Linked DNA regions of Homo sapiens. The protein of the gene in region 1 purifies or fractionates together with the protein of each later gene. This does not show direct contact. Each region holds a gene or a part of one and is shown on either strand. Other genes may lie near its edges.

What was found.
Region 2: the proteins of NAGS (region 1) and TCP11L1 purify together in Homo sapiens (affinity purification with mass spectrometry; one large-scale study listed by BioGRID and IntAct). This does not show direct contact.

What each region holds. Positions count from the first base shown.
Region 1 is NC_000017.11:44,002,930-44,007,421, forward strand, and holds the start of NAGS (N-acetylglutamate synthase, mitochondrial), read left to right. Parts: upstream 1-1,692; 5' UTR 1,693-1,734; coding exon 1,735-2,160; exon of another isoform or gene 2,161-2,382; intron 2,383-2,707; coding exon 2,708-2,982; intron 2,983-3,094; coding exon 3,095-3,308; intron 3,309-3,599; coding exon 3,600-3,780; intron 3,781-4,393; coding exon 4,394-4,492. UniProt on the Homo sapiens protein: Plays a role in the regulation of ureagenesis by producing the essential cofactor N-acetylglutamate (NAG), thus modulating carbamoylphosphate synthase I (CPS1) activity.
Region 2 is NC_000011.10:33,066,872-33,070,676, forward strand, and holds part of TCP11L1 (T-complex protein 11-like protein 1), read left to right. Parts: intron 1-1,815; coding exon 1,816-1,988; intron 1,989-3,805.

The DNA.
Region 1 (4,492 bases):
AACCTTCCATGTTACCAAGAAAGCAGGCAAGCTATGCAGATGGAATATAATGGAATGTAATAACATTGTTTTCCTCTCACTTGATTCTTTTTTAATTTTGATTTTAATTTTAATTTTAATTTTTTTGAGACAGGGTCTCATTCTGTCGCCCAGACGGGAGTGCAGTGGCACAGTCTCAGTTCACCGCAATCTCCTCCTCCCAGGCTCAAGTGATTCTCTGGCCTCCTGAGTAGCTGGGATTACAGAAACATGCCACTACTGCCTGGCTAATTTTTGTATTTTTAGTAGAGATGGGGTTTCACCATGTTGGCCAGGCTGGTCTTGAACTTCTGACCTCAAATGACCCACCCGCCTCCTCACTTGATTCTTAAGGCTTATGGCAAGTGATACTGGCCTAGTTACAGACCTAACATGGATAAACTTTAAGTTTAAAAAGGTTAAAGAGGGCCGGGCGTGGTGGCTCACGCCTGTAATCCCAGCACTTTGGGAGGCTGAGGCAGGTGGATCACGAGGTCAGGAGTTTGAGACAATCCTGGCCAACATGGTGAAACCCTGTCTCTACTAAAAATACAAAGATTAGCCGGGTGTGATGGTGTCTGCCTGTAATCCCTGCTACTCAGGAGGCTGAGGCAGGAGAATCGCTTGAACCCAGAAGGCGGGGATTACAGTGAGCCGAGATCGCAACACTGCACTCCAGCCTGGGCAATAGGGTGGGACTCCATCTCAAACAAACAAACAAACAAAAAAAAAAAAAAAAAAAAGGGTTACAGAGGTCGAGTGAAGTAGCTCACACCTGTAATCCCAGCACCTTGGGAGGCAGAAGTGGGAGGACTGCTTGAGCTCAGGAGTTCACGAACAGTCTGGGCAACATGGTGAACACCCGTCTTCAAAAAAAATAATTTTTTTTTAAATCAGCTGGGCATGGTGGTGTGCATTTGTGGTCCCAGCTACTAGGGAGACTGAGGCAGGAGGATCATTTGAACCTGGGAGGTGGAGGCTGCAGTGAGCTATGATTGCACCACTGTACTGCAGCCTGGGCAACAACAGAGTGAGACCCTATCTCAAAAACCAAAATAAAAAACTCTATTTTATTTTATTTTTACCAGATGTGATATTCGATAAAGAAAAGCATTAACACTAAAGTATTATAAGTTTTGAGGGGTGTTTTGAGGATATCACAGAATTCCTCAAGCTGGTACCCAGTGACTGGAGTTTGGCAAACCCTGGTAACCTCATGGTCATTCATTAGGATCTTTTTTGAGCTCAGGCAACAGGACAGACAAGGCCAGCACCACCCGCCCCCGCCCTCCCACTGCCCCCCTTCTTCTACTCTTTCCAGCGCCCTCCTTCCAGCCCCCTGCCCAGCCCTGTGCTCAAAGCCACCTACAGTCCCTTCTTCTCTGGTCAGAATGCCAATCATCCAAGGCCCTGCAGACTCCCAAAGCCGCCCCTGGAACCTACCTTGGCAGCAGATTAAAGACAACCCGCCACATTTAGTCTCGGCCCCATGACCGATAGTGGGTTCAGTTCCTCCAGGGGCGGGGGAGCCTAGTGGCCCCGCCCCCTGACTCATGGCCTGACCCTCCTCAAACGCACCCAGAGGAGACTCCTGGTCCCCTGTCCGGACCCCGCCCCGACCAGGTCCAGCCCCGCCCAACGGCAAGTTAAGAGCCCCCCAGTGCCAGACGCTCCAGACAGACTGCCACTCTTGGGGGGCAAGAGTTGGTTGTCGTCATGGCGACGGCGCTGATGGCTGTGGTTCTGCGGGCAGCTGCTGTAGCCCCGAGGCTGAGAGGCCGGGGAGGCACTGGGGGCGCCCGAAGGCTGAGCTGTGGCGCGCGGCGGCGGGCGGCGAGGGGCACCAGCCCGGGGCGCCGGCTCAGCACCGCCTGGTCGCAGCCCCAGCCCCCGCCCGAGGAGTACGCGGGCGCGGACGACGTCTCCCAGTCGCCCGTCGCCGAGGAGCCGTCGTGGGTGCCGAGTCCCAGGCCCCCGGTGCCCCACGAGTCCCCAGAGCCTCCTTCGGGCCGCTCGCTGGTGCAGCGGGACATCCAGGCCTTCCTGAACCAGTGCGGGGCCAGCCCTGGGGAGGCGCGCCACTGGCTCACGCAGTTCCAGACCTGCCATCACTCCGCGGACAAGCCCTTCGCCGTCATCGAGGTGAGCGGAGCCCGGCGTGGGCCGTGACGCAGCGAGGGGATGGGGTTGTGCGGCCACCTGTCCTCAGGCATGGCAGGATACGCTGCGGGCTCTGCGCAGCGGAAGCGGGAAGGAGCCCGGCAGGGCCCAGACCAGCGCCGCCGGGAATGGGAGAGGCCGTAAGCTCCTCCGGAAGCCTCCCGCCCAGCCCGAGTGAGGATCCTGGGGGACCCCACCCGCCAGGTGTGATGCTCTGAAGAAGGCCCCCAACATGGGCGCAGTTAGGGGTTCAGAAGGACCTGGACAGGAGCCGCTTGCACTGCCCCTCCCCCAAAGATGTCCCGGAGTCCAAGGTCGGAGGGAGGAGGGCGGGAGGTACCCCAGCGTGAGACAAGGGAGTGGCAAGACCCAACGGGGCAAAGGGCGGAGCAGGTGGGCACTGGTGGCCAGAACTGGGTCCTGACAGCTTCTGGAAGGGTAGGGTCACCGAGACGGCCCTGCAGGCCAGGCTGTGGGAGCCAGCGGCTCAGGTCCGTGTCACGCTCCTTGAAAGCCCACTCCTCCGCAGGTGGACGAGGAGGTGCTCAAGTGCCAGCAGGGCGTATCCAGTCTGGCCTTTGCCCTGGCCTTCTTGCAGCGCATGGACATGAAGCCGCTGGTGGTCCTGGGGCTGCCGGCCCCTACGGCTCCCTCGGGCTGTCTTTCCTTCTGGGAGGCCAAGGCGCAGCTGGCCAAGAGCTGCAAGGTGCTGGTAGACGCGCTTCGACACAACGCCGCCGCTGCTGTGCCATTTTTTGGCGGCGGGTCTGTGCTACGCGCTGCCGAGCCGGCTCCCCATGCCAGGTGAGTGCCCGCCCTGCCCGCCCAGGCGTCCTCAGAGCGTGCTACTCTGCCCGCCCTGCCCCGTCCGGCAGGCCTGGAGGGGGCCCTCTCGAGCACCACGTCTGGCCCACAGCTACGGCGGCATCGTCTCGGTGGAGACAGACCTGCTGCAGTGGTGCCTGGAGTCGGGCAGCATCCCCATCCTGTGCCCCATCGGGGAGACGGCCGCGCGCCGCTCCGTGCTTCTCGACTCCCTGGAGGTGACCGCGTCGCTGGCCAAGGCGCTGCGGCCCACCAAAATCATCTTCCTCAATAACACAGGCGGCCTGCGCGACAGCAGTCATAAGGTGCGGCCCTTTCTTTCACCTTCCCCCACGCCGGCGATCCGGGCCTTCTCTTGCGCCCCTCGCACTTCTCCCCGACGGGCCGCAGACTCACTAGCAAGCCGGGTGGGTAGAAAAGCCTAAGGGAGTATAGGGGAGGAGTTCAGCCCTGGGTGCCCAGATCTGCGCCCTCCCTGGCTAAGGACTCCGGGCGGAAGTAAGGATAAAGGGGTCAGAGAAAAGAGAGGTCCGTGGGGGTAGGGGGGCAGTCCGTGCCGGCTGTGGGCCAGGCTCACCCGCTGACTCCGGACACAGGTCCTGAGTAACGTGAACCTGCCCGCCGACCTGGACCTGGTGTGCAACGCCGAGTGGGTGAGCACAAAAGAACGGCAGCAGATGCGGCTCATCGTGGACGTGCTCAGCCGCCTGCCCCACCACTCCTCGGCCGTCATCACCGCCGCTAGCACGCTGCTCACTGAGCTCTTTAGCAACAAGGGTGAGGGCGGTGGGCGGGCCGGGGACTGGGTCCCGGGAGTGAGTACTGGCCGGGGCTGGGTGTCTGCGGTCAGGAGGAGCGGCTTCTCCTCCTGTCCAGGAGCCGTAGGGGGAGGCGGGGGGTGTCACAGCAATGGCTCCTGCTGCTGCCGAAACCCGGGGGAGGTGAGAGAGGAGGAGACCCAGTGTACTGGAAGGGAACTCCGAAGGAATTAAAGGAATGGGCGGGACTAGGGGGGAGAAGGAGGGGCCCCCCGGTGGGCGGGGCCAGGGGCGGGACCATAAGGGAGGTGTTCGACCGGGAGAGATGGGCGGGGCTTAGGTGGGTGGGCCGGGTCAGCGGCGGGAGACAGACTTCAAGGAGCGAGGCAAGACTAACGGAAGTGGGTGGGGCTCCAGGCGACAGGAGGAACTTGGGGCACAATCTCTGCCTGGGGAAAGCATCTCCTTGAATGAAAATCACAGACAAATCTATGCAGACCACTGAAATCATTTCACTGTGGAGGTCTCCCAAAGACGGAAATTGTCCCACCAGCGCCTGTCCTACCTGCAGTCCCCACCAGGCTGCGCAAACGGCCCTCCAGCCAGACTAGCCCCTCCCCATCCTCCTCCAGGGTCCGGGACCCTGTTCAAGAACGCCGAGCGAATGCTACGGGTGCGCAGCCTGGACAAGCTGGACCAGGGCCGTCTAGTGGACCTGGTCAACGCCAGCT
Region 2 (3,805 bases), on another chromosome or scaffold:
ACACTTAACACACGTGTAACAGAAACGAAAACTTCTCAAACTGGAACTGACCCTAACTGTGTTTAATGCAGCCTGATTGTTTCTACTCTATTCTTATTCCATTAAAAAAAAAAATTGGTTGCTACCCACTGAATTGCTTTCATAACCGACTAACAGTGAAAAGCAGAGCCCTAGAGGAAGGTCATGAGAGAAACCAGCTATATTCCTGCAGAGCTGCATGTATGTGGTTGAAGTGTTCTGCCCTTGCTTGTTCCCTGTAGGCGTTCTGTGCTCAGTGTAATGCATCATTTTCTTACCCAGCACGAGTCCGCATCTGCACGCGTGCAGGCTTCAGTGACCGCTCCTACCATGGAGTCATGTTGGGTGACTTCTATGGTTTCCAGCCTATAGAATATCTTTGAGTGGTTCTAAGTAAATGCTCTATCTAACAAGGTCCAATTCAGAGACTTCTTCAAGGGAAGTACCCCCTAAACATTCTCATCCTTACAAAATGGAGGAATTTTACTGCTGAATTTTCACAAAGCATGGCTGTGTTCAGTGCAGTGTGGGGCGTGTCCGTAAGTTGTGACTAGGGCCTCAACAGTTTTGACAGTCAAACTAGTTTGCTGAGAGGCCAGGAAACTTGTTTGCTCAGCTGAGGGCCTAGCCTGAGGCCTTTGCACAGGTACAGCTCTGGGCTGTCACCTAGGTCCCCTGCCTGGAGAACTACTCTGTCAAAGCTCCCGCTGAGGGTGGGATCCAGGTCAGTGCTTTCTTGGGAGCCCAGCCTTGCACTCCCATATCCTCCCTGGTCCTCCAGGGGTGGGCACAGAGCTGGTGCCAATGGTGAGTGCCAGGGCTTGCTCCCATGCCCCCCAGTAATTCTACATACAAAGGATCTAGACCCACAACAGAGGCAGTTACCTTCTCACAGCATGCCTGCCAGCATGGGGGCTCCCCACAGGCACCCTGGGAGAGCCTGGGGGACCCAGGGTATCCAGGTACTCTTTTTTTTTAACTTTAGGATTTCACTTTTCGTTATTCTTTTATTTTTTAAAAATTTTTTAATTTTTATATATTTTTTTATTTTTTTGTGATGGAGTTTCACTCTTGTTGCCCAGGCTGGAGTGCAATGACGTGATCTCGGCGTCCACTTCCTGGATTCAAGTGATTCTCCTACCACAGTCTCCTGAGTAGCTGGGATTACAGGCACCTATCACCATGCCCAGCTAATCTTTTTGTATTTTTAGTAGAGATGGGGTTTCACCATGTTGGCCAGGCTGGTCTTGAACTCCTGACCTAGAACTCCTGATCCATCTGCCTTGGCCTCCCAAAGTTCTGGGATTATAGGCGTGAGCCACTGAGCCCGGCCTCTTTATTCTTTTAAAATTAGTTAATACATGTGTATGTTTCAAAAATCAAAAGGTACAAAAGGGCATCCAATGAAGAGTTTCTCTCTCCCTCTTGTCCCACAGCTACCAAATGCCTGCTTTCTTGTGTATTCCTCCAGAGGTATATCAAGATATTCTGAGGTCATTCCAGGCTGATTTTATCACACAGAGGCTAGCAGGAAGTTGTGCTTTGGGTCGTTGGTCCTGGTATACTCTGAGCCCCTGCCCTTCCCACTGTCCTTTCTAGCAGAGGGAGAGAAAGAAAGTCCCCCTGGTCAGGTATGCACAGCCTGAGAGGTAAGGTGGCAGGGAAAAGAGTCTCAAATTGTCCCTTGAACACACAAATCCAGTTATTGGTGCCGTCATTCTCACCCGGGTGTGGGCGGTTGGAGCTGGTTAGAGGTGTATTTTACTTATAGGCCCTTTCTCCCCTCCTCTGCCCCAGCTCCTTCCATCTGAAGGACGTCCTCACTACCATCGGGGAGAAGGTGTGCCTGGAGGTGAGCAGCTGCCTCTCCCTGTGTGGGTCCTCTCCCTTCACCACGGACAAGGAGACCGTGCTCAAGGGCCAGATCCAGGCCGTGGCCAGTCCCGATGACCCCATTCGCAGGATCATGGGTACGTTTGGGGAAGGCAGGCAGCAGGGATGTGCCCTCTGAGGGGCTGGAGCACGAGTCCATCTGAAGAAACCTGAGGGCTCAGCTGGAGTTAAGGTGCTGATGGGTGAGGAGATGGTGTAATGAAGCACCACAGAGAGACCAGGGCCACCCAACAGATGGGCACAGGACCAGGCAGCCATCATTGTTCTAAGGGCTGCAACCTTGGAATCACTCTCCTGGGTTCACAAGCAGTGTCCCAGGGCAGCTTGGGCGTGTAACTTGACACTCGAGTTTCCTCATCTCTAAAGCAGGAATAAGGGCAGCAACCTTACAAGGTCGCTGCAGGAACTCCCTGGGATGAGAAGGTGAAGCGCTTTCCGTAGTGCCTGGCAGCACATAGTAAGTGCTCAGTAAATAGGAGCTGTTACGAAAAGAGCTGAATAGTAAAATGAAGATGTTATTTAAAAATACTATTAAAATATTATTAAATATTAGTATGTAATACTATTAACATATCAAATATAATAACTTAAAATGGTAATATTAAGATATTGCTATTTAAAATTTATAATAAACTTGAAGTATTAAAATATTTTAATGCATATTCTATAAAATATTTAAAATATTCTATAATATTAGCTATTAGTTATCACAGCAATGGCTTTATGAAAAATTCTGTTAATTAGCTCGACTTAATCATTTTGTAGTATATACATACATTTAAAACATCATGCTGTATGCTGTGAATACATAGTTTTGTTTGTTTGTTTTTGAGACAGGGTCTCACTCTGTCTTCCAGACTGGAGTGCAGTGATGCGATCTCGGCTCACTGCACTCCACCTCTGTGCTCCACCTCCCAGGCTCAAGCAGTCCTCCCACTTCAGACTCCCAAGTAGCTGGGACTACAGGCATGCACCACCACACCCAGCTAATTTTTTGTATATCTTCTAAAGATGGGGTTTTGCCTTGTTGGCCAGGCTGGTCTCAAATTCCTGGACTCAAGTGATCCGCCTGCCTCAGCCTCCCAAAGTGCTGGGGTTAACAGGCACGAACCACTGCATCCAGCCAAGATTTATACTCACAACCTTCATAGGGAGGCAGGAAAGTGCCTGTAAGTAGACCTGTGGCCAGCAAGTTGCTACTCATCCTGCTGCCTGGGTTGTTTTGTAATAGCCAGTTACCGACAGATTGAAAACCAGCCCTTAAGGGGAGGATCACTTAAAACCAGGAGTTCGAGACTATCTGGGCAGCATAGTGAGACCCCATCTCTACAAAAAATTAAAAAAAAAAAATTAGCCAGGTTAGTGACATGCATCTGTAGTCCTTGCTACTCGGGAGGCTGAGGCAGGAGGATCACTTGAGCCCAGGAGTTTGAGGCTGCAGTGAGCTACAATTTCACCACTGCACTCCAGCCTGGGTGACAGAGCAAGACCCTGTTTCTAAAAGAAAGAAAGAAAGAAAAGAAAAACCAGTCTTTGGGTAGGAACAATACAAAGATTTCTACTTCAGTGAGGCTGCCAGCCCTGGGAACCTTAGAGAACCAAACTAACTTAAGAATAAGGGTGCTGAGCACAGTGGCTCATGCCTATAATCCCAACATTTTGGGAGGCCGAGCCGGGCAGTTCACCTGAGATTGGAAGTTCGAGACCAGGCTGACCAACATGTAGAAACTCCGCCTTTACTAAAAATGCGAAATTAGCCAGGCATGGTGGTGCATGCCTGTGATGCTAGCTACTTGAGAGGCTGAGGCAGGATAATCGCTTGAACCTGAAAGGTGGAGATTGTGGTGAGCCGAGATTGTGCCATTGCACTCCAGCCTGGGCAATAAGAGCTAAA